Homo sapiens: one gene and its partners. The protein of the gene in region 1 purifies or fractionates together with the protein of each later gene. This does not show direct contact. Each region holds a gene or a part of one and is shown in the gene's direction. Other genes may lie near its edges.

Region 1 (3,500 bases):
CTACTAAAAATACAAAAATCAGCTGAGCGTGGTGGCGGGTGCCTGTAATCCCAGCTACTCGGGAGGCTGAGGCAGAGAATTGCTTGAACCCTGGAGGCGGAGGTTGCAGCGAGCAGAGATGGCGCCACTGCACTCCCACCTGGGTGACAGTGAGACTCCATCTCAAAAAAAAGAAAAGGAGACCTCTCTACCCCACCACCTGGGAACATCATTGGACAAGCTCATAGTCAAATTTTACTTGATCCGATAATACATCAGTGGGGAGTGAGGAGGGAACAGGGTTGCCCCTTTTTTTGGGAGGTGAAGGAAAACGGTTTGAGTTTTTTAACTTTTTGTTATGGAAAAATGCCAACATATAAGAAGGAAACACAGTGGTATAGTGAAGCCCCCTGTACCCTTCTCCCAGCTTTGTTATCAGCATTACATCATTCTTGTGCCATCTGTTCCTCACCCCATCTTCATGATGATGACCTTCATTATAGTTGTTTTGGGTAAAATTGACAGACATTGAATCACATGAATGCAGCCATACAATTTTGACCAGTGATTATACCCATGTAACCCAGGAATGTCAGCCCCATTATGATGTAAAACATTCCCATTTCTTTAGAAAGTCCCTTAGGCCCCTTCCCAGTTGGAGGTTTGGAGGGTTTTGTTTGTGTTTTAATATTCTCAGAGGGCCTAATTAGTTTGTGTGTGTGGCGGGTCACCTAGCTAATGCTGTGAGCTGAAAAACGTCTGAGAGAAGATAGTACTGTTGTTCATCTCAAAATAACCCATCACAAACACTGAGCTTTCAATTCATTCAGAATATTTTTTTAGGAATAAATCTTGTAAGGTGAAAGTGCTGGGGAATATGTAACAGATCTTGTCTTCAGAGTTACTGAAATGTAAGATGTCTGCTTTTTCTCTTTTAAAGAATCCTCGCAAGGCTCGTGTAACTCGGCGTTTCATTGTAGTAGAAGGATTGTATATGAATACTGGAACTATTTGTCCTCTTCCAGAATTGGTAAGCAACCATGTTCAGCTGTAATTTTAATATTTGGACTATTTGACAGATGTGCCTTTTGTTTATGACCGCTTTTAGTGTATAACGTCTGCGTTGCTTTGCGCATTAGGCCTCATAAGCATATTTTGCTCAGATCAGGGAAGAAGAACAACACTGAATGCCAGTGCTGGCCTTCAAAGAGTAATCAAGACTGCTCTGTTGCCCAGGCTGGAGTGCAGTGGTGTGAACACAGCTCACTGCAGCCTTACCCTCCTGGGCTCAAGTGATCCTTCCACCTTAGCTTTCTGAGTTAGCTGGGACTACAGGCACATGCCACCACACCTGGCTGATTTTTCCCTTTTTTGTGGAGTAGGGGTCTCACTGCGTTACCCAGGCTGTTCTCAAACTCTTGGGCTCAAGCGATCCTCCTGCCTCAGCCTGCCAAAGTGCTGGTATTACAGGTATGAGCCACCACACCTGGCCAAAACTTAGCTTTAGCTTTTTTTTTCTCCCCCGCAAGACAGTCTTGCCCTGTCGTCAGGCTGGAGTGCAGTGGCGCCATCTTGGCTCACTGCAACCTCCTCCCCGAGGTTCAAGCAGTTCTCCTGCCTCAGCCTCCCGAGTAGCTGGAACTATAGGCGTGCGCAGACACCCCCAGCTAATTTTTGTATTTTTAGTAGAGACGGGGTTTCACCATGTCGGCTAGGATGGTCTCAATCTCTTGACCTCATGATCTGCCCGCCTGGGCCTCCCAAAATGCTGGGATTACAGGCATGAGCCACTGAGTCGGCCATACGTAGCTTTTAAGATCCAGCTTTATTTAGGTGAAATCAACGTATAAAATACACCTACTTTAAGGGTAAAGTTTGATAAGTTTTGACAGATGTATATACATCTGTATCACTGCAGCCATCCACCACCACAGTCAAGATACGGAATATTTTTATGTAAGACAATGTTTATCCAGAAAGAAAACTTTATCCAGAAAGCTTCCTGATGCCTCTTGGTAGTGAGTACCCATGTTGGCCCCAGACAGCCATTAATCTACTTTCTATTCCTGTAGATTAGTTTTACCTTTTGTAGAATTGCATATGAATGAAAGCATAGCTTGCTTTTTTGTTTTTTTGTGTTTTGTTTTTTGTTTGAGATGGAGTTTCACTTATGTTGCCCAGGCTGGAGTGCAATGGCACGATCTCGGCTCACCGCAACCTCTGGCTCCTGGGTTCAAGTGATTCTCCTGCCTCAGCCTCCCAGGTAGCTGGGATTACAAGCATGTGCCACCATGCCCGGCTAATTTTGTATTTTTAGTAGAGACAAGGTTTCTTCATGTTGGTCAGGCTGGTCTTGAACTCCCAACCTCAGGTGATCCACCCTCCTTGGCCTCCCAAAGTGCTGAGATTACAGGCGTGAGCCACCACGCATGGCCAAAACTTAGCTTTTTAATAGTGAAAGCAGCATAACTGTTTTTAGAAACCATGACCATTGAGATTTCCTTTATTGAGGTGAAATTCACATAACACAAAATTAACCAATTTAAATTGTACAGGACAGTGACATTTATTACATTTACCATGTGTGCAACCATCAACTTTAGGTCAAAAACCTTTTCATGACTCACGAAGAAGACCTCAAACCCATTAAACAGTCACTCCCCATTTTCTTCTCCCTCTAGCTCCCAGCAACTACCAATCTGCTTTCTGTCTCTATGGATTTACCTTTTCTGGTTATTTCCTATAAATGGCATCATATAATATATGACCTTTTCTTTCTGGCTTCATTCACTTGATGTTTTTAAAGTTCATTAACATTGTATACCATGTATCAGTATTTCATACCTTTTTAATGCTGAGTTATAGTCCATTGCATGGATAATACCACGTTTTGTTTTATATGTTCATCCACAGATGGATATTTGGGTTCTTTCTACCTTTTTGCTATTGCAAATAGTGCTGTTGTGAACATTTGTGTACAGGTATTTGTTTGAATTCCTGTTTTCAGTTCTTTTATGTATATATCTAGCAGGGTAATTGCTGGATTATATGGTAATTCTGTGTTTAACTTAATAAGGAACTGACATACTGTTTTCAACAGCGATTGCACCATTTTACATTCCTATCAGCTATATACCAGGGTTACAGTTTCTCTACATCTTTGTCAGCACTTATATTTTCCAGGGTTTTTTGTTGGTTTGTTTTAGCCACCCTAGTGAGCATGAGGTAGTATCTCACTGTGGTTTTGATCCTGTTTCCCCCAAATGGCTAATGATGCTGAGCCTCTTTTCTTGTTTTTTTTTTTGTTTGTTTGTTTGTTTGGCCATGCGTATACCTTTGGAGACATATCTATTCAGGTGCTTTGCCCATTTTTTAAATTGGGTTGTTTTTTTGTTTTTAAAAGAATTCCTTGTATATTCTGGATACTAGATGTTTATCAGATACATGATTTGCAAATATTTTCTCCTATTTTGTGGGGGTTTGTTTCATTTATTTGATACTGTCCTTTGACACACAGTTTT
Region 2 (3,500 bases), on another chromosome or scaffold:
TACTGGTTGGTGACATTTTTAAGTGGTAGTTATCAAGTTCACATATTCGTGACTCAGATTTCTCGTCTTGAAGCCAGACCTTCTACTGTTGCTGATGGTTTTGAGGTCAAGTGAAAGATAATACCAGGAGGATACCTTTATCAGGTGTGCATAAAAGAGGAGTATTTACTCTTTTTCTTTCTTCTTTCCTTTCTTTCTTCCTTTCTTTCTTTCTTGACAGAGTCTTGCTCTGTCTCCCAGACTGGAGTGCAATGGCACGATCTTGCAACCTCCACCTCCCGGGGTCAAGCAATTCTCCTGCCTCAGCCTCCCAAGTGGCTGGGATTACAGGTGCACGCCATCACACCCGGCTAATTTTCTTATTTTTAGTAGAGACAGAGTTTTGCCGTGTTGGCCAGGTGGGTCTCGAACTCCTGACCTCAAGTGATCTGCCTGCCTCTGCCTCCCAAAAGTGCTTGGATTATAGGCGTGAGCCACCGTGCCCAGCCAAGTATTTACTCTTTATATGCCCTGTTCTGTATGAAATGAACAGGGTTACATTGGGATAAATTTCTTGATTCACTAAAGCCGCTGTGCTCTTCCTAGTGGTTGCTTTGAGTGAGACAGAGGCTTCACACTTTTAAAAAGATATTCCTGAGTGCAGTGGCCCACACCTGTAATCTTAGCACTTTGGGAGGCTGAGGTGGGCGGATTGCCTGAGCTCAGGAGTTCAAGACCACCCTGGGCAACATGGTGAAACTCCATCTCCACTAAAATACAAAAAATTAACCCCTTCTCCACTAAAATACAAAAAATTAGATGGGCGTGGTGGCACACACCTGTAGTCCCAGCTACTCAGGAGGCTGAGGCAGGAGAATTGCTTGAACCCGGGAAGCAGAGGTTGCAGTGAGCCAAGATGGTGCCACTGCACTCCAGCCTGGGCGACAGAGTGAGACTCTATCTCCAAAAAAAAAAAAAAAAAAAAAATGTTGGAGATCATCACATATTAAAGAGAATTTGAGACACTGTTTTTTTCTAAATGATAAATTGCCTCTTGAGCACAGAGCAAACTTTTGTGAAGGTAAAATGGTACCATGCATTGTCTTAAGATGCACTCCTTTATGGTCTTGACTCTGATGCCTTTGTTTCTAGGAAGACCTAAGAGGTTGGAACAAAGAACATGGTAGGATAACAAAATATTTTTTGTAGCCTCTGTAGTTCATCCAGCCAAACGTATGTCTATTACTGAATATGAATAGATTGTACTTAATACTTGCCTCTAGCAGCAGCAGTTTTTAATCTTTTAAAAATTGGATTATACATTCATATAGTACAAAATTCAAAAGTTGTTAACAGTCAGAAGTCTTCCTCTCACTCAGCCATGCCAGTTTCTCATTTTGGAGACAACTAGTATTAACAGAGTTTTTTGTGTATCCTTCTAAGGGGGATGGTCTGTGATATACAGATGAATAAAAAACATGTATACAGTGTGTCTATTTTTCCCCCTTTTATGCAAAGCAGTAAAACTAGACACGTCTTCCAATTGCATTTTTCATTTAATTATTTTGGAGATAAGAATCTCCTTATTTGAAACTGCAGAGATATGACATCTAAATGCGCAATACCTTACCCTAGACTGGATCCTCTACTAATGTAGTGTAGAAAAAACAACTCAAACTGTTTGTTTTTTCTATTTTCTCATTCAACAGCAACAATGAACACAGAAGACTTCTGTGATCAAGTGTGTTTAGATTTTTCCGCACACATCAAGCGGTCACACCTAGCTGGTGTCCTCCAATTCAATTCAATTCTGATGCTATCTACCTGGGAATAGCCTCAGATTCTACAGGTTGAGAGTTCAGTCCCCCAAGACTGATTCTTCCTTCCCACCAGTCATAAGTCCAGACTTTCAGAACTTCTTACTGACCTCAAGTTTGGCCTCCCACGACCCCCTCTGGGGTGTTCAATTAATCTGCTAGAGCACCTCACAGAACTCAGGGAAACTTACTTGACATTTATCAGTTTGTTACAGAGGACATTTTAAAGGATGCAAATAAGCAGCCAGATGAAGAGATACATAGGGCAAGGTCTGGGAGGGTCTTGAGCACAGGAGCTTCTGTCCCCAGGGAGCTGGGGTACGCCACCCTCCTGGAAAATAGATGAGACCTTGTTCATCTTCCTGTAAGCCTGCATGTGTTCAGCTGTCCAGAAGCTTCCCAGACCCTGTCCTCTTGAGCCTTTTATGGAGACTTCATTGGATAGGCATGATTGACAGGCATGCAGAAATGTGACTGGGCAAGGGTATGACCTAATACTGATAGGCTGAGTGGGGAAACACAGCAAGGCCTGTCCAAATTCTTGGCCTCTCTGTGCAGCATTAATCTTCCTCCAGGATATGGTGCAGGACCCCTTTTGGAGATCCTGCCTTGGGCTGGTGAAAGGAGGGCAGGAGAAGGTCAAAGAGAGGTTCTTTTTTCTAAGGGCTGCTCCTGAGGCCTAAAGTGCCCCAACATTATGTATAATAAGGGATATGGGAGTTATGAGCTAGGAACCATGGATGAAAACCGGTATGTATGTATATCATAATATCACAACTACTATTAAAAATATTATTAGGTCAACTGACGAAATTGACATATGGTTGACAGATCGGATACAATTATTGTATCATTGTTAGCCTGGCATGATGGCACATGGCTGTAGTCCTTCCTACTCAGGAGGCTGAGGCAGGAGGATCACTTGAGACCAGGAGTTCAAGGTTATAGTGAACTGTGATTGTGTCTCTGAATAGCCACTGCACTCCAGCCTGGGCAACATAGCAAGATCTGTCTCTTAAACAACAACAACAGGCTGGGTGCGGTGGCTCACGCCTGTAATCCCAACACTTCGGGAGGCCGAGGCAGGCAGATCACCTGAGGTCAGGAGTTCAAGACCAGCCTGGCCAGCATGGTAAAACTCTGACTCTAGTAAAAATACAAAAATGAACCGGGCGTGGTGGCAGGTGCCTGAAATCCCAGCTACGCAGGAGGCTGAGACAGGAGAATCACTTGAACCCGGGAGGCAGAGGTTGCAGTGAGCCGAGATCACGCCATTGCACTCCAGCCTGGGCAAGAAGAGTGAAACTCTATCTCAAAACAACAACAACAAAAAGCTAAAAAAACTATCAGTGTAAATTTGTGAAGTTAATAATGGTACTGTGATTGATTATGTAAGAGAATATCCCTAATCTTATAAAATAAGCACTGAAGTATTTAGGGGTAAAGTGCCGTGTTGTATATAATCTGCTTCTTAATGGTTCAGGGAAAAAAAATCAAATGTATAACATACATATATAATGTTTAGAGAGAGAGAAACACAAGTGCAAATTATAAAACAAATGAGGTAAATATTAACAATAGGTGAATCTGGAAAAGGGTATATATGTCTTCCTTGTATAATTTTAATTTTTTTAAGCTTGAAAATACTTACAAATAGAAAGTTTTTTCAGTTGTTTGTTTTCTCACCATTGCCTACTATTCATT
Region 3 (3,500 bases), on another chromosome or scaffold:
GTTGTTAGGACTACATGCGTGTGCCTTCATGCCCAGCTAATTTTTTACTTTTTACTTTTTTGTAGAGACAAGGTCTTGCTGTGTTGTCCAGGTTGGTCTTGAGCTCTTGGGCTCAAGTGATAACTTCCATCTCGGCCTCCTAAAGTGCTGGGATTACAGGTGTGAGCCACCACACCCAGCAACTTTTAATATATCTTACTAAATCTACTTTCATGAGCTGTATATTAAATCTATAATAAAATAATTTCATAACATCTAGATTCCTGGGCGTCACTGTGGATTGACTGACTTATAATCTCTAGAGATAAAGCCTGGAAATTGGCACTTCTTTTAAAGAACGCCATAGTGATTTTGCTCCCTGAAAATTCAAGTAAAATGAGAAAGAACAAAAACCAAACAGGATAAAAAATAAAATTTGATAGCTCTTCTCTCCTGGGCTTTGGCATTTTACATAATGTGTCAGAAATATGGTGGATTTGCCTTTTGTAAAGCAAGGCCCCATATTGACTGGCCGATGCTGTTTCTCTCTGCAGGTGTGGCAGTTGGGCTCTTCGTCACCAAACTTCACTTTGGAAGGACATGAGAAAGGCGTGAATTGCATTGATTACTACAGTGGTGGGGACAAGCCATACCTCATTTCAGGTGCAGATGACCGTCTTGTTAAAATATGGGATTATCAGGTACAGTTTTTCATAACCTTACTTCCATATGTTAGATATGTTTCTTACTATTTCTTATAGGACAGTTAAGACTTGGGTTGTTGAAAACTGTTCACAGCATAATAACTTAAGGTATCAGTATTTGCACCTAAACTGTGTTCCCAGAATTCTCCATAAAAATGAAAACAATGCATATCAAGATTTTAAAAATAAAATACCAACATGTTCATATTTCATTTCATAATTGCATTTAGAAATTTTAACATTTTAATGTTGAATTATCCTCCATAATCTTCATTGATAGACTTCTATTCATTTTTGTAAGCTAGCAGATCAACAATTACCAACCATTTTGCCAAATCGTACTCTTGTAAACCTAGTTATGAATTCTTGTTAACATGCTTCCTATCTCTAAGATTTTCTTATATTTTGATATTTTTGTTTTCCACATCAAAAGTTCCCATAAGCAATTAATAAAATGAGGTCTAGAAAGTCAGTTTTTCCTTGAAACATTTTCAGATTTGTACTTAAATCCAGAATAAAAATATTAAAGGCTAAAGCAGCACTGTCTACTTAGCCAGTGATGGTAGGTGTGAGTTTTAAGGGGGAAATCTATTATCCTGAGAATTTGGGGGAATAATATTCAGACAAAAGCCTTCTTGGGTTTTTTTCCCCTTCTTTAAATGTGATAGTTACATTTACATTTATTTTACAAAGTAATTAGATAAAATATTCATATATACAACAAGATCATCCTATTTCAAAAATTTCTATATTGGATATTATTTAGATTTTCATGACTACTATCATTTATAATGTATCTGTACACTGAGAAAATTAAGGGCGGGCTGGTTACATGTTTTTCATTAATAAAACATGTTTTCTATGTCTTAATTACAGAATAAAACATGTGTGCAGACACTGGAAGGACATGCCCAAAATGTGTCTTGTGCCAGCTTTCATCCTGAGTTGCCAATCATTATCACAGGTTCAGAAGATGGTAAGTTAGAAGGGTATGTTTATTCCTGTGCTAGTAACTACTCAGTGGGCATTTAAAGCAAGTAATGTCTCTGCATTATAATTGTAGGTTTCCAAGGATTTTGATATTTTTATTAAAGTACCAGACTTAAGCTATAAAAGAGTAAAGGGGCATTATTTTCATCATCATCATCATCATCATCATCATCATCGTCATCATTCTCATGTATTTTGATTCTGTCACTTAAATAAGAGGACCGTCAGCTGTCCTAAAGAGAAACTGAAAAAGCATGTGCTTTGGAGTCAAACAAACCTGGGTTCAAAATCAGGCTCTGTTATGTCATGAATGTGTGTTTGGGCAAATTATGAAATGGAAACATATATATCTGCTTCATAAAATTATAGTGAGAAGAAATTGTGGGTAGAAAGCATCTGGCACATAGGAAACACTTTACCCAGGAAATCCTGTTATTATTTCATGTTTAAAATCGTAATTCTTAGTTTTTGTTTCTTATATGTTATGTGTTATGTTTATGTTGCTTTTAAAAATCATTTAAAGACAGTAGGTCAAAAAATTGGTCATTAAGCTGCCAGGAAGTGTTATCTGTTTGAATAGAAAGACTTCTATGGGTCTCTTTCACCTGACACAGTTTATTGTCGGATGTTTGTATCAAAAGGGAGTATTTACATTGTTCTTTTTAGGAACAGTACGTATTTGGCATTCAAGCACCTACCGGCTTGAGAGCACACTGAATTATGGAATGGAGAGGGTATGGTGCGTGGCCAGTCTAAGAGGGTCAAACAATGTCGCTTTGGGCTATGATGAAGGGAGCATCATTGTTAAGGTAATTATACTATCCCTCTCAGTAGGTGGACATAGGCAAAACCATTTTCTTTGTATTTTAGTACTGTCATCTTCCAAGTAACCAGTTTTATAAAACTGGCACTTCTTTCATTAAGCACTAGACATTAAGCAATGAAGATTTAAAGTGGAAGAAAGGAAATGGAGCTCTCTGTTAGGTGAAAAAAATAATCTGTTTTGTTTTGGTTTTATTCATTTTCCTTTTCATTGCTGAGAGCTATTTTTCTTTCTTTCAGCTTGGTCGGGAGGAACCTGCCATGTCCATGGATGCCAATGGAAAGATAATTTGGGCCAAGCATTCAGAAGTCCAGCAGGCCAACCTAAAAGCAATGGGAGATGCTGAAATTAAAGATGGTGAAAGATTGCCACTGGCAGTAAAGGATATGGGCAGTTGTGAAATATACCCTCAGACTATTCAGCACAATCCTAATGGGCGGTAAGCCATCACCAAAATTGTCCCTCAGCTTCTGTGTATGTTAGAACAGGTTTGCAGATCCACAGTCCACTCTTGCCCTGTGGTTGGCATCTCTAATCATTCCTCAATGTGCTTTTGCCCTGGCCTCACAATCCTCAACACAGCTGCAGTCAGCCATGCCACTTGATCAAGTTGGCACAAAAGATGGAGCATGTTTCCCATCTGGACTTGTTCTATACCACACAATTTTGAATAGTTAAATAGTAGTTTCCTGTTATTTCGCATGCATTGAGTTTGTGTTTTTGTGTGCTCCTTTGAGGGCAAGGAGTATGTCTTATGCTGAGACTTAGTAGGTGCCCTCTCTAAATGCTTGCTGACTCATTGCTCTTTCAAGAAGAAAACCTGACTCTGAGATATGTGTCTTTTGAAAAAGTTTTGGGATTGATAATAATTCTGTTTCTTATTTGTAATTCGAACTGTCAGTTGAATTTCTCCCTTAAGATTTGTAAGTCACCAAACATCTTGTGAGAGAGGAGTTTCTAGCACAGTGAAGTCTAAACCTGTGGAGCTTTAAAATTATTTTACA
Region 4 (3,500 bases), on another chromosome or scaffold:
GTTTGTTACATGTAATATAAATTTCAGTGTAATATTTAGGGTTTTTTTGTTTATACTTTTTTAATGAGACAGGATCTCGCTATATTGCCCAGGCTGATCTTGAACTGGGCTAAAGCAGTCCGGCCTCAGCCTCCCAAGTAGTTGTTATTACATGCTAATACTCAGTTTTCAAACTGAAAATGTATTGCTCTCTAAATTAAAAAACATACCAGGGATACATGTTTAAAATACTTAGAATGTGTTCGAGTTCTGTATTGCTTATGAAGAAATCTACCAAAGTTATATAATTTTATGTTGTATAGAAAATTACTTAATATTTGCTTAACTTGTCTTGGTTTTTGTACCTCATGAAGTTTTTGTGTTTTTTTGTTTTTTTTTTTTTGAGACAGAGTCACTCTGTCGCTCAGCCTAGAGTGCAGTGACCCAGATCTTGGCTCACTGCAACCACCGCCTCCTGAATTCAAGCAATTCTCCTGCCTCAGCCTCCTGAGTAGCTGAGACTACAGAAGTGCATCGACATACCTGGCTAATTTTTGTATTTTTAGAAGAGTCAGGACTTCACCATGTTGGCCAGGCTGGCCTTGAACTCCTGACCTCAAATGATCTGCCTGCCTCAGCCTCCCAAAATGGCTGGGATTACAGGTGTGAGCCACTGTGCCCAGCCCCTCATGAGTTTTTTAAATGTTTTGATACAGATATTAGGTATTACTGATATTTAAATAAGTGTATGGCTAAACTTGGTTTAATCAAACTTTAAATATAACATTACTTTAAATGCAATATAAAAATATATTTTAATTATTTAGGCTTTCCTTTGTGTTCTAGCATATTCCGTTCAGGGCCAAAGTGTTATGATGATAAGTCCATCAAGTGAATCTCACCAACAAGTTGTGGCAGTGGGTCAACCTTTAGCAGTCCAGCCTCAAGGGACAGTAATGGTAATGTACTTGTATTTTTCTTGGTTATCAATTAGCTATCAAGGAAACTTGTTGTACCTATCTTTGTGTTTGCCAAAATGTGTCATACATTTATTTACTTTCTTTTACTAGAACTACTTTCTTAAACTAGAAGAAACTAGTTTATGCAGTTGACATTACTGTAACCAATATGATAATACAACTTTTAATCAAATGAATTGTTCCTTATAAAACCTTCCAAATCTTTTTCTTAATTTTTTCTTTAAAAAAATCTTTTAACACATTAATGCTACTTTATAAGCTTTTAATTTTTAAGAATACATAACAATTATTGAAAATGTATCCTTTTTAAAATATAGCTGACTTCCAAAAATATCCAGTGTATGAGGACTTTACTTAACTTGGCGCATTGCCATGGGGCTGTTCTTGGAACATCATGGCAACTTGTCTTGGCAACTCTTCAGGTATGTAAAAGTGTCTAGGTCAGAGATTAGTGTTGTTTTTATATATAATTGCTAACAGTTAGACTAAGCAATGTATTTTGATGTTTTGGACAGGCCTAAAAAATAGATAGTAAGTATGAAAAAAGAGAAGTTAGAAAGGGAAAAAGATGTGACTCATATTGTAGGAAGTGGTGGAATGCTTCTCATAATGGCCTAAGCTCTGCTGCATATGTTCGATATCATTAATTATTTTATATGAATGTTAATTAGTGATTTTAGTTTTAGGTTTTAAAAACCTACTACTGATTTTAATTTTGGTTGCTAGAAGTTACTACTGATTTTAATTTTAGTTATTGGACCTTTTATACTTTTGTAAAGTTATTTGTTTTGATTTTTTTTTAATTTTACAGCATCTTGTGTGGATTCTGGGATTAAAGCCTAGTAGTGGCGGTGCCTTGAAACCTGGGAGAGCTGTAGAAGGACCCAGTACAGTAAGCTCTAGTCTTTCTTACCCAATTAGTGCATCCCAAAGTGTCATATATTACATTTAATTTTATTCTTCTCAGGTTCTAACAACAGCAGTGATGACAGATTTACCAGTGATTTCCAATATACTTTCAAGATTGTTTGAAAGCTCACAGTAAGAGTCAGTTTTTTTAATTGATAAAAACATTGTTATTTGTTATATATTTTAGATCAAGATGTCTTATTTCTTCATTTCCTTTTTAGGTATCTTGATGATGTATCACTGCATCATTTAATAAATGCACTTTGCTCCTTGTCTCTAGAAGCAATGGATATGGCCTATGGAAATAATAAGGTGTGATATTCTACCTTTCTGTTTTAGATATGATACATTAGTTATATAAGATGTACATCCATTATGATCTTAGTGTTTTACTAGTAGAACTAACACTCAGATTGTATGGTAACCATACTCTGTTGGGTTTTTACCACTTATCGTTATTTGTCGAAGGAGTAAAAAGGACATGATTTGGCTTGTGATATGTCTAAATATGTCATATGATTTTAAGTTGTGTTCATTTCTCTTATATACTGAACATTTTAAAAATATTTTTATAAAATAATATAATACAGTTTTATAGGTTATATAAAATGTCATGATAATACTTGTAATTACAATTTATGATTGGGGTAATATAAGATTTAAATTAAAGAATGTTTGTCTCAGTTTCCTTTGCTTTCATTGGGATGGAAAGTAAGGAGCTAATCATTTCTTTCTAAAGGTAATGATTCTCCTTATCTTGAAAATTTAAATTTTTATTTGTTCATTGATTAAATGAATAAAACGGTACTTTTGAATATTAACATTCAAGAACATTTCTTTCTATACTACTAAAAATATCACTTTCTGTTATACTTGGAAAGCACAGGAACAGTTGTATTTATTTATATGTTAGAAATAATTAAACAAAATACTTTCCACATTTTAAAATCAATAAATATAGTTTGACTATTTACAAATAAGTGAAAATAACCCAAAATATGATTTAAAAGCTAAAATTTATATAATTTAAAGCTATAACATGTAACTGTAGCATTCAAAATTATGTTGTCTGCCTAGTCTTTTTTTTTTTTTGAAACGGAGTCTCGCCTTGTCGCCCAGGCTAGAGTGCAGTGGCGCAATCTCGGGTCACTGCTCTGCCTCCCAGGTTCATGCCATTCTCCTGCCTCAGCCTCCCAAGTAGCTGGGACTACAGGTGCCCGCCACCACGCCCGGCTAATTTTTTTATTGTATTTTCAGTAGAGACAAGGTTTCACTGTGTTAGCCAGGATGGTGTCGATCTCCTGACCTTGTGATCCGCCCGCCTCAGCCTCCCAAAGTGCTGGGATTACAGGCATGAGCCACCGCGCCCGGCCATCTGCCTAGTCCTTAAGTGTAATTTTGGGTACTGTGGCTTGTTATCTTGGCTCTTATGACTCATTTAAAGATTGGTGAAGAAAGTCTCATTAGAGCATAGTTTCATATATTATAGTACCTAGCTAGATAATTATATAAACATGCAGGTGTTTGAAAGTATGTATTATGGCTGGGCATGGTGGCTTACGCCTGTAATCCCAGCACTGCAGGAGGCCGAGGCAGGCAGATCACTTGTGGTCAGGAGTTCGAGACCAGCCT
Region 5 (3,500 bases), on another chromosome or scaffold:
CTATGTTGGCCAGGCTGGTCTCGAACTCCTGACCTTGTGATCTGCCTGCCTCAGCCTTCCAAAGTGCTGGGATTACAGGCATGAGCCACCGTGCCCGGCTTTACCTCTTTTTAAATTGGGTTGTCATTTTATTATGGATTGTAAGAGTTCCTTTAGTATCTTATTAGATATATGGTTTGTAAGTATATTCTCCTGTTCTGTGGGTTGTCTGTTCACTTTTCTTGAAAATATCCTTCGAAGCACAAAAGTTGTTTTGAGGAAATACATTTTTTGCTGCTGTTGCTGGTGCTTTAGTGTCCTACCTAAGAAACCATTGCCTAATCCGAGGTCACAAAGATTTCCACTATGTTTTCTTCTAAGAATTTTGTTGTTTTAGTCCTTGAGTTTAGGTCTTTCATACATTTTGAAATTTTTTTTTTTTAATAATAAGAGAGAGGGGGTTCAACTTCATTCATTTGCATATGGATATCCAGTTGTCCCAGCACCTTTTGTTGAAGACTGTTTACCATTAAATCGTCCATCGTCTATTTACCATTAAATTTTCTAGCACCCTTGTGGTTTAATATACAAATAATTATAAAAATCACTTACTATGGATACAACAGAAGGATTGGACATGCTTATCTTGCATTTCACATTAAAGCACCCTGGTATACTGTGTAACACAAAGCATCATGGCCAGGCATGATAACTCATGCCTGTACCCTCATGCACTTTCGGAGGCTGAGGTGGGAGAATCGCTTGAGGCTAGGAGTTCAAGTCCAGCCTGGGCAACAGCGAGACCCCGTCTCTATAAAAAAAAAAAAAGTGTGGTGGCACGCACTGGTAATGTTAGGTACTTGGAAGGCTCAGGTGGGGAGAATTGCTTGAGCCCAGGTTTGAGGTTGCAGTGAGCTAGGATTGTGCTACTGCACTCCAGCCTGGGCAACAGAGGGAGATCCTGTCTCTAAAATAAAAAGAAAAAGCGATATGAAATGACCACAACATACCACAGTTTGAGAAGGATGGGTTTACACAAGTAATCTAGAGAGTTTTTTGATGTTACTGCTGTTTCTTTTCCATTGTGAAATGAGGCTGGTGTTAGCTAGCCAGTGGGTACACTAGAGTCAGCAAAGATAGGCCTGGGCCATTTTGTGCTAGCTTTCTCCTTCCCTCCTGCTCTTCCTCTTTTCCTCCTTCCTGTAGTGGGACTTTAATACAGAGAATTGTTAACATAGGTGATGGAAGACTTGAGATGCCAAAAAGGGCATGATGAGGCAGTCGAGAGATTAGCAGCAGTAAGAAGCAAGTAGTGATATATAGAGGGATACAAGTAGGAGATGGTTCTTGGAGGCTGGGGACCAGAGTTACCTGGTGGGAACTGGGCTTGTCCAGAAGGAGCAGAAACATTTGGGAGATTCAGTCTTAGAGAGAAAGGTTCTCCTACCTTCCGGTCAAAGCCAATGGACAAGGGAGCTGCAGCTTATTTCTTAGTGAACGGAATATAAAACCATTCCTTAGAATAATTTCCTTACCTATAAAAAAATCAGTCTGGTTAATTCCAGCTTGTCTTTTTACTGAGAAGTAAATTTATTGAGTATATTTAAATATTTGTGAGATTTGGCCAGTCATGGTGGCTCAGGCCTATAATCCCAGCACTTTGGGAGGCTGAGGTGGGCAGATCACTTGAGGTCAGTAGTTCAAGACCAGCCTGGCCAATATGGTGAAACACCATCTCTACTAAAAATACAAAAATTAGCTGGACATGGTGGTGGGCACCTGTAATCCCAGCTACTCAGGCTGAGGCAGGAAAATCACTTGAACCCTGGAGGCAGAGGTTGAGTGAGCTGATATCAAGCCACTGCACTCCAGCCTGGGTGACAGAACGAGACTCCGTCTCAAAAAAAAAGATTAAAAAAAAATTTGTGTGATTTGACTATATATTAAAATCTCTTTCATAATTAGTCAACAATTTAAGCAACAATTAAATTATTAGTGCTGTGGAAAATATAGAAGAAAGATAATTTCTTATTCCCCTCCTGAGGAAAGCATTTGATACACCTGGAAAGGAGCTGCTATGAAGCCAATTTATCTGTTCTTTTTATCAATTCAGCAGCATTTAAGATCAGATTTTTTCTCTAGTGGTCCAGCAGAGGGAGCCCTAGCACATGAATTGTTTTCATTTTGTGCTTGCATCCAGGGTTAGTTTAGTGGGAAAGTGGTAGTCTATCCCTTTTAATTATAATTTAAGCAGTTCCTCCTTTCTTTTTTGAGACAGAGTCTAGCTCTGTCATCCAGGCTGGAGTGCAGTGGCGGCATCTCGGGTCACTGCAGCCTCCACCTCCCAAGTTAAAGCAGTTCTTGTGCCTCAGCCTCCCAAGTAGCTGGGATCACAGGCGTTCGCCACCAGGCCCAGCTAATTTTTGTATTTTTTGTAGAGATGGGGTTTTGCCATGTTGGCCAGGCTGGTCTTGAACTCCTGGCCTCAAGGGATCTGCCTGCCTCAGCCTCCCAAAGTGCTGTGATTGCAGGCGTGAGCCACCATGCGTGGCCTAGTAGATCCTCTTTTTCAAATTGTCAGAATAAGTTAGAAATAATTATCATTTTGTTCAAGGTGGGAGAGATGGTTGGGGGGGTGGTGAAAGTTTTTACACCATATGAGTAAGAAAGCATATTCTGATGCTGCTATCAATTCATAAGTGAGTGGTTTTGCTGTCATAATTTTCCGGTCTCACTGTCACCATGTTCATTCTTTTCTGTTGGATTATTTTAATTGTTTCATAACTAGTTTCCTTATTATCTGTCTTCTCAAATTATTTATGATATTGTCAGATTGATCTTCCTAAAGCACAGTTATAATCACTGATCCTCAGTCCTGAACGTAATTATATTTAAAATCTAAAGTGCTAATCTTGACTTTGAAAACCTTCTCTATGCTTTGCCCCTAGAATGCTTACTAGCATTTTCTCCTAACTGTTCCTCCATAAAAAGTACACTGTCGTGCTTGCAGTTTTTCACAGCTCTGCTTTTCTTTACACTGGAAGTCTTCTCCCCATTTTTTTAATGTCCAAATTATAGCCATCCTTCAAAACCCAGCGCAAAAGCTACTTCTTTCAAGATACCTTCTTTGATTTTCCTCACTGGAAAGAATCTCTTCCTTTTTCTTACACTCTTTACCTTTCTTATTGCACTTAGCTTTTAAAAGCTTGCATTATAAGTTGTTTACATACATGTCTTGTCACTGTACTAGATAAAGTATGAGCTCTATGAGTTAGGATCTGGCCATCTAGCCTAGCTTCGTATTTATTTTTTGAAACAGAGTCTTGTTCTATTGCCCAGGCTGGAGTGCAGTGGTGCGATTTTGGGTCACTGCAACCTCCGCTTCCCAGCCTGAGCAATCTTTTAGCCTCCGCCTCCTGAGTAGCTGGGACCACCGGTGCGAGACACCACTCTCGGCTCATTTTTGTATTTTTTTGTAGAGACAGGGTTTCGCCATGTTGCCCAGGCGGGTCTCAAGCTCT
Region 6 (3,500 bases), on another chromosome or scaffold:
GTAATCCCAGCACTTTGGGAGGCAGAGGCGGGCACATCATCTGAGGTCAGGAGTTTGAGACCAGCCTGGCCAACATGGTAAAACCCTGTCTATACTAAAAATAACAAAAATTAGCTGGGTGTGGTGAAGTGCGCCTGTAATCCCAACTACTTGGGAGGCTGAGGCAGGAGAATCACTTGAACCCAGGAGGCAGAGGTTGCAGTGAGCTGAGATCGTGCCACTGCACTCCAGCCTGGGCAACAGAGTGAGACTCTGTCTCAAAAAAAAAAAATGTTTTTCTAAAGTGAATCAGTATTATATTTTTTTATCTTTTCGGTTTGTACTGTATTGACTATTCTTAGCGACAGTGACATACTCATTTTAATTTGAATATAATTTACATTTCGTGGAAAATTATTATACCAATTGAGAATAAAAGGTGATCTGATTCTAGAAAATTATCACCATATTTGTTTAATCCATGAGAATAATAATGGTTATAAAAATAAAACCCCATGGCAGGTAAATGCAGTGCTGATCTTGGATCAGAACAACAGCAACAACAAATTTCTATGAAGGACATTATTGGGACAGATTGAGAAATATGAATATGGTGTGTATATTAGTTAATAGTATTGATCAGTGTTAAATTCTCTGATAATTATAATGTGGTTATATAAGAAATTATCCTTACCCTTGAGAGAGATACACTAAAATTATCAGCAGTAAAGAGCAAATGTGGGCCAGGTGTGGTGGCTCATGCCTAAAATCGCAGCACTTTGGGAGGCTGAGGCAGGTGGATCACCTGAGGTCAGGAGTTCGAGACCACCCTGACAAATATGGTGAAACCCTCCCTGTCTCCATTAAAATACAAAAATTAGCTGGACATGGTGGTGTGCAACTGTAGTCCCAGCTACTCAGGAGGCTGAGACAGGAGAATTGCTTGAACCCAGGAGGCAGAGGTTGCAGTGAGCCAAGATCTTGCCACTGCACTCCAGCCTGGGTGACAGAGCAAGACTCCATCTCAAAAAAAAGAAAAGAGCAAATGTGGGAAGATATTAACTGGTGAATGTAGGTGAAGGATATACAGGAGTTCACTCTTAGAACTTTTTTATCAGTTTCGAATTGTTTTTAAGTGTGCATCTTTTAAATGTTACATTTTCCTATGGAGTCAAATAATATCACATTTAACGAAATTGTTAATAATTTATGAATGTTATCTAATACCAAGTCTATATGTAGATTTTCCCAGTTATCCCAAAAGCCCTTTTTGTTTAGTTTGCCCATTTTGTGACCATGTATCGTATTTGGTGGTTATGCCCTTTCAGTCTCTTAATTTTGGACAGTATCTTTTTTTTATGACACTGATTTGTTGAAGAGACCAGACCAGTAATACTATAAAATGCCCCTCTTTCTGGATGTGTATGGCTACTTTCTTACGTTGTTTAGCTTGTTCTTTGACTTCTGTTACTTTCTATAAACTGTAAGTTGGAGCTTTAGCTTTAGCTTGACAGAGTCAAAGTAAACATTATCAGTTTGAATGTGTCATGTGCTATTATTTCATATTGCAGTGTATCAGGAGACCCAAACTATCTAGTTCTTCCACCACTAGTGGTTTTGTTATTGATTAAAGAATTAAAGTGATGATAGATAAACCCCACCATTCTGCAGTGAAGATTTTTTTCCTGTGACCAGAAAGATTGGTGTTAATTCTTGATTTTTTCTTCTTTTTTAGGATCTGGTTATGGATATCCTAAGAGTATTGAGCACACCAGACTTAGAAGTACGAAAGAAAACTCTGCAGTTAGCACTGGATCTTGTCTCTTCTAGAAATGTTGAAGAGGTAAAAGGAAACTCTGACAGCACTTTGTAGCTATCAGGCCCAAATATGATGTAACTCTCACTTATTTTTACTTCATTCTATAAGCTGGTTATTGTCCTGAAGAAGGAAGTGATAAAAACAAATAATGTGTCTGAGCATGAAGATACTGACAAATACAGACAACTCCTAGTGCGAACATTGCATTCCTGTTCTGTCCGATTTCCAGATATGGCTGCAAATGTTATTCCTGTGGTATGTAATTCTGATGACTTTAATTTTGAAATTATCTAAAAGAATTTTTTAAAAAATATAGTTATTTGACAAACTCCAGAAATCTCAGCTGCCTAGAACCATTAAATCTCATGGTGAGAAGTGATCTTTATATCTACCTCTACCTTTAAACTCAGAAGGGTGAGGACTGACTTCTTTCACTTATATATTCATCAAAAAAACAAAAACAGTGACCAAAAAAAAGCTTTGCATATTATTTTAATTGATGATACAGTTACCTAAAGTAAAATTATGCTGTGTATATATATTATTCAGTAAGGCAAATAGGTATTTATTTTAAATAGCTTTAGCTCTTAAAGGAATCAGTTATAGGAAAAATTCACATATGTAGAATATTTTGCTGTCACTGTCAGATAAGTGAGGTATGTTATTATAATTTGATTTTTGCCTTTGAGCTCTTGAGTTCTCTCTAAAATGATTTTAGTTACAATTTAGGAGGATCGAATTCATTTATTTATTTGGAGTTTTGGATCTCTAGCTTATCTTTTATAGTGAATTTTAAAATAAATTTTGCTGCACATAAAATGGAAAAGCCATTGTGACTTTGTTTACATAATAGTACTTGTCTCTCAATTTACATTTTGTTGTGTATTTGAAAATTATTAAGAATTACAAGGGTCAGGCATGGCACTTCATGTCTGTAATTCGAGCACTTTGGGAGGGCTAGGCAAGAGGATTACTTGAGGCCAGGGATTCAAGACCAGCCAGGGCAATATAGGGAGACCCTGTCTCTACAAAAAAATTAATATTAGCTAGGCATAGTGTCATGCCTGAAGTCCTAGCTCCTGGGGAGGCTGAGGCTGCCAGAGGATCACTTGAGCCCAAGAGTTCAAGGCTGCAGTGAGCTATGATTGTGCCACTATTCTCTAGCCTGGGCAGCAAAGCAAGACCCTGTCTCTTAGAAAACAAAAAAAGAATTACATTCTTTTAATTTATTTCTTGTCCTAGATAATTTTCTTTTCGAAAATTGTTAGTTCCATTTTCTTTTTTTTTTTTTTCTTTTAGTTAATGGAATTTCTCAGTGACAACAACGAAGCAGCAGCTGCTGATGTCTTGGAGTTTGTTCGTGAAGCCATTCAGCGCTTTGATAACCTGAGAATGCTTATTGTTGAGAAGATGCTTGAAGTCTTTCATGCTATTAAATCTGTCAAGTAGGTTTAAAATACATTTAAATGTAAGGTCAAGTAAGCATTTTATCAGTTTTTATCTTTAAAGGGTCAGTTGATAGAAAATAGAATGGAGAGGACAATCAAGCCAAAATAAGACAAGTTTGTACAACAAGCATCTCGCTAACTCCACTCTCATTTAGTCTATAATAAATGGCCCAAAATAATTTTTTTAGGAGTGATTTAGCTCAGGGTCTCTATTCTGATTTTCTCTAAAACATTGTGAATCTTAAAGTAACTAA
Region 7 (3,500 bases), on another chromosome or scaffold:
AATACAGTATATTTGCCTTTCTGAACCGTACAGTAGAAACCTACAGTGGTTGCTTTATTAAGTGCTACCTCACCCTTAGAGGTATTAATGCTTCACAGGATTCTTGGCCCAGCTTTAAAAATGAATGATTCATTTTGATTCAGTAGGTATTTAGTAAGGACTAAGCATGAGCTACATACTTTTGTTCTCTAATTCTTTTAATGGAGGAATAATAATCACAAACATTTTTACATAAAAACAATTTAAAAAATATTGGGGCAGTAGATATATGGCCAGATAAGATTTTATTATTTTTCACTGAAAAGATGTATAAAATAAACTGTTTTGATATTCTAAACACTAGTTAAGTACATATGGTTTGAAGGAAATAATGAGAGGATGATTATTCTCTTATATTCTAATATCTATGTGGTCTGGAATAGATGTTCTTAACTTTTTGGGGGTCCTATACCCCCGATGATTTGAAAACATATACTTTCTGTTTTATAATTCACTTTAAAGTCCATATGAAAATGGTTTCGTAGAGCTTACAGAATAAATACTCCTTGGCGTAATGTCATCTTCCAACATTTCTAATGTTGGAAGTGTCCAATGTCTAATGTCTTGCGGTGTCCCAGTGCTTATTCCGAGTGTATTCAGGCTAATGGGAAAACAAACATCATGCAAACAACTCTAACATGATATATTGTACTGTAATCGTATTTTCAATAAAATTGTATACAACTACATAAAGAGGAGATTAATTATTACTAATGAGGTAGGTTTTTCTAAGGAATTGTTATTTGAGCTGAACCTTTAAGAATGAGGTAATGAAGTAGCATCAAGACTTTTGGCACAGCAACAAGGAACCTTTCCCTCCCCTGCCATTTGCTGAGTATTCTGATTGTACCTTTGATAGCAATTTCTGCCCTACTTTCTAGCTGTTTATGCATTTTTTTTCCTTATCATCTCTTGGAGGATTGAATTTTTCCAAGGCTTGGGTACATCTCATTCAATTTCATATGTGCATATATGTCCTATGTCTTGTACATATAAGCCACCTATTAAATGTTTGATGGGTTAAATCCAATTGAACATGAGTCCTTTCCTCCATAGCTTACGTGTTATTGTAGCTAAACGACTTCTGAATTGCCTACTGGAATAACTAGGAAGTAGACTAAGCCTTGAAAGGAAGGGCTTGGTTAAGTTGGTATCATATAAAATTTCAAATCCCTAATTTTTCTATATAATCATTAAAAGTAGAGGTAGGAAAAATGACATCACATTGTGGCGTCTAGAAGGAAAAACTTTGTGTCATGATAATATTTAGGCATTATCCCTTTACATAAAGTGCCTCAAGCAGTGATCCTGAATGAAACACTGCCTATGAGTCTAAATGGGTATCATAATCTCAAGGAAACCAAATCTATAGATTGGTTTTTTTCTACCCTATTGATAAAAAAAATTATATGTTTAGACATATGATCTGACAGAATGGCTTTTAGTAATGTTATTTGCTTTGAGTTTTTAAAACTGACTTCAGAAGAAATGCTATTGAGGCACAATAGCGATTTAAAAAGGGAATTGAGTGGAACATTATACCTATTATATCAAACTATTTTTATTGCTTTGGAAGAGAACTATTAAGGCAAAGGCAGTCATCATATTAAATATCTCAAAACTATTTTTCCCAATAGATTTTAATCATTTTATTGTTTTCTACCACTTTGTATGTCTTTATCATTTTTTAAGTATCATCAAATTTACTAATATACCCTGAAGAAAAACCTCCTGTACATTGGGGAAAAAGTAATCCTATTTCCTAATAGGAAAAGTGTAAGAAAATCTGAATGTAAAGATATGAAGCTACCCTGATAATTATTTTTAGTTTAACGAATAGAAATGCAAACAGGTTACTTTCAGTTGACCTTTTACCAATTCTCACTTAATATTTTTATACCCCAGAAAGTTCTATTTTATTATAAAGAAACTGGCTACAGCCTTTCACTATTATATGAAAGCTTAAAACGAACTCAGTTAAATCACACACTCTCACAAACAGCTTGGAACCTCGTTAATGCTACTGACAAAGACTAATTTTGTATTTAATATTGATCATTTATAACCCCTTGCTTGTTTTCCAGGGGATGTACGTATTTTTGCATGCAGTGAAAGGAACACCTTTCGAAACTCCTGACCAGGGTAAAGCAAGGCTCCTAACTCATTGGGAACAACTGGACTATGGAGTACAGTTTACATCTTCACGGAAGTTTTTCACAATTTCTCCAATAATTCTGTAAGTGGCAGAAATTTTTAGGTATGAGGAGGATTGGATAAGAGGAAGATATCTTTTCATCAGATTGAATTGGAATTAGAAACATATTTTGTTGCAAACTTCTATCAATAAGTAGCACCTCGGATAGAACATAAAATATAGACAAAATTTTTAACAAGTTGATAATAAACTAATTTTCACTTCAGTCAGTACATATACGGAGACAATATTACATGCTAATCAGTGCACCTAGACATTTAGGATATACAGGTCAAATGTATTCCAGCTCCCGTCCTTAGGTTTCATATAAGGACACAAAATACATAATCATATTCTATATTGCACTGTCAGATTAATCTCCTTAAGCAATGATTTAGATAATGAGAAGAATTTCACTGGCCACCTATCCTATTAAGATATTCAGACTCCTTGGGAAAGAGTATGGTTTCGAAAAAAGTAGGTCAGGCTTTCATTATAGGATAGACCTGGGTGGAGTCCTATATATATCACTCAGCCAGCTTGGTTTGCTCATATATAAAATTCTAGCTAGTGATACCTAATTCAATCCTAATGCTGTAAGAAATAAATGAGATAATAATCTACCTGGATAGCATGTAACCTGTATCTGGTATCTAATTTCTTTCTCCTATCTGATGTTCTGGGCCTTCCAGAAAATAGTTCTTACCTCCTTTTCCCTTGATGTAAATATTTTATCCCCACCCAACTCCTACCTGGCCTTCTAAGCAGCATTTCTTGAATATTTCATGTGTAGTCCTATTTCTGTCTTTGTTCAAATCAGTTCAAATCATATCTCCTACCTGAAATGCCTCCTCCTTTTTTCCCCAGCTTTACTGAGGTATAATTGACAAATAAAAAAATGTATATATGTTTTATTTTGTCTCTCCAAAGAATTTATAAGTGCATGGATTGCTTTGAATCCCACAGTAAGTACAGTGGCCTACACATAATAGAGGTATTGCTCATATATCTTAATACTCTGTACCATCTAGCCTATACATAATAATGTCCATGATAGAGTCAGTGCAGCCTGGCATAGCACAAAAGACTTCTTGGAGGTGTTGGAAATCCTTATGTTAGAACTTAAGAGAGACTAGGTTTTAGATATTTAAGTAAGGGAAGGCATTTTTAAAGTGAAAGGAATAAACTGATCATAAAATAATGGGGTTCTTTTTCCTTAATTTATAGCCCTTTGAGGAAATTTTGAATTGATTTAGTCCCATATAAT

What was found.
Region 2: the proteins of SPTLC1 (region 1) and ARCN1 purify together in Homo sapiens (affinity purification with mass spectrometry; one large-scale study listed by BioGRID and IntAct). This does not show direct contact.
Region 3: the proteins of SPTLC1 (region 1) and COPB2 purify together in Homo sapiens (affinity purification with mass spectrometry; one large-scale study listed by BioGRID and IntAct). This does not show direct contact.
Region 4: the proteins of SPTLC1 (region 1) and MON2 purify together in Homo sapiens (affinity purification with mass spectrometry; one large-scale study listed by BioGRID and IntAct). This does not show direct contact.
Region 5: the proteins of SPTLC1 (region 1) and NSRP1 purify together in Homo sapiens (affinity purification with mass spectrometry; one large-scale study listed by BioGRID and IntAct). This does not show direct contact.
Region 6: the proteins of SPTLC1 (region 1) and COPB1 purify together in Homo sapiens (affinity purification with mass spectrometry; one large-scale study listed by BioGRID and IntAct). This does not show direct contact.
Region 7: the proteins of SPTLC1 (region 1) and ORMDL1 purify together in Homo sapiens (affinity purification with mass spectrometry; one large-scale study listed by BioGRID and IntAct). This does not show direct contact.

The regions. Positions count from the first base shown.
Region 1 is NC_000009.12:92,052,914-92,056,413, reverse strand, and holds part of SPTLC1 (serine palmitoyltransferase 1), read left to right. Parts: intron 1-919; coding exon 920-1,009; intron 1,010-3,500. UniProt on the Homo sapiens protein: Component of the serine palmitoyltransferase multisubunit enzyme (SPT) that catalyzes the initial and rate-limiting step in sphingolipid biosynthesis by condensing L-serine and activated acyl-CoA (most commonly palmitoyl-CoA) to form long-chain bases.
Region 2 is NC_000011.10:118,585,909-118,589,408, forward strand, and holds part of ARCN1 (coatomer subunit delta), read left to right. Parts: intron 1-3,500. UniProt on the Homo sapiens protein: Component of the coatomer, a cytosolic protein complex that binds to dilysine motifs and reversibly associates with Golgi non-clathrin-coated vesicles, which further mediate biosynthetic protein transport from the ER, via the Golgi up to the trans Golgi network.
Region 3 is NC_000003.12:139,372,648-139,376,147, reverse strand, and holds part of COPB2 (coatomer subunit beta'), read left to right. Parts: intron 1-533; coding exon 534-680; intron 681-1,559; coding exon 1,560-1,659; intron 1,660-2,339; coding exon 2,340-2,482; intron 2,483-2,735; coding exon 2,736-2,935; intron 2,936-3,500. UniProt on the Homo sapiens protein: The coatomer is a cytosolic protein complex that binds to dilysine motifs and reversibly associates with Golgi non-clathrin-coated vesicles, which further mediate biosynthetic protein transport from the ER, via the Golgi up to the trans Golgi network.
Region 4 is NC_000012.12:62,536,326-62,539,825, forward strand, and holds part of MON2 (protein MON2 homolog), read left to right. Parts: intron 1-825; coding exon 826-938; intron 939-1,276; coding exon 1,277-1,381; intron 1,382-1,770; coding exon 1,771-1,851; intron 1,852-1,926; coding exon 1,927-2,000; intron 2,001-2,089; coding exon 2,090-2,180; intron 2,181-3,500. UniProt on the Homo sapiens protein: Plays a role in regulating membrane trafficking of cargo proteins. Together with ATP9A and DOP1B, regulates SNX3 retromer-mediated endosomal sorting of WLS away from lysosomal degradation.
Region 5 is NC_000017.11:30,123,316-30,126,815, forward strand, and holds part of NSRP1 (nuclear speckle splicing regulatory protein 1), read left to right. Parts: intron 1-3,500. UniProt on the Homo sapiens protein: RNA-binding protein that mediates pre-mRNA alternative splicing regulation.
Region 6 is NC_000011.10:14,479,312-14,482,811, reverse strand, and holds part of COPB1 (coatomer subunit beta), read left to right. Parts: intron 1-1,714; coding exon 1,715-1,822; intron 1,823-1,906; coding exon 1,907-2,053; intron 2,054-3,097; coding exon 3,098-3,243; intron 3,244-3,500. UniProt on the Homo sapiens protein: The coatomer is a cytosolic protein complex that binds to dilysine motifs and reversibly associates with Golgi non-clathrin-coated vesicles, which further mediate biosynthetic protein transport from the ER, via the Golgi up to the trans Golgi network.
Region 7 is NC_000002.12:189,774,340-189,777,839, reverse strand, and holds part of ORMDL1 (ORM1-like protein 1), read left to right. Parts: intron 1-2,123; coding exon 2,124-2,275; intron 2,276-3,500. UniProt on the Homo sapiens protein: Plays an essential role in the homeostatic regulation of sphingolipid de novo biosynthesis by modulating the activity of the serine palmitoyltransferase (SPT) in response to ceramide levels.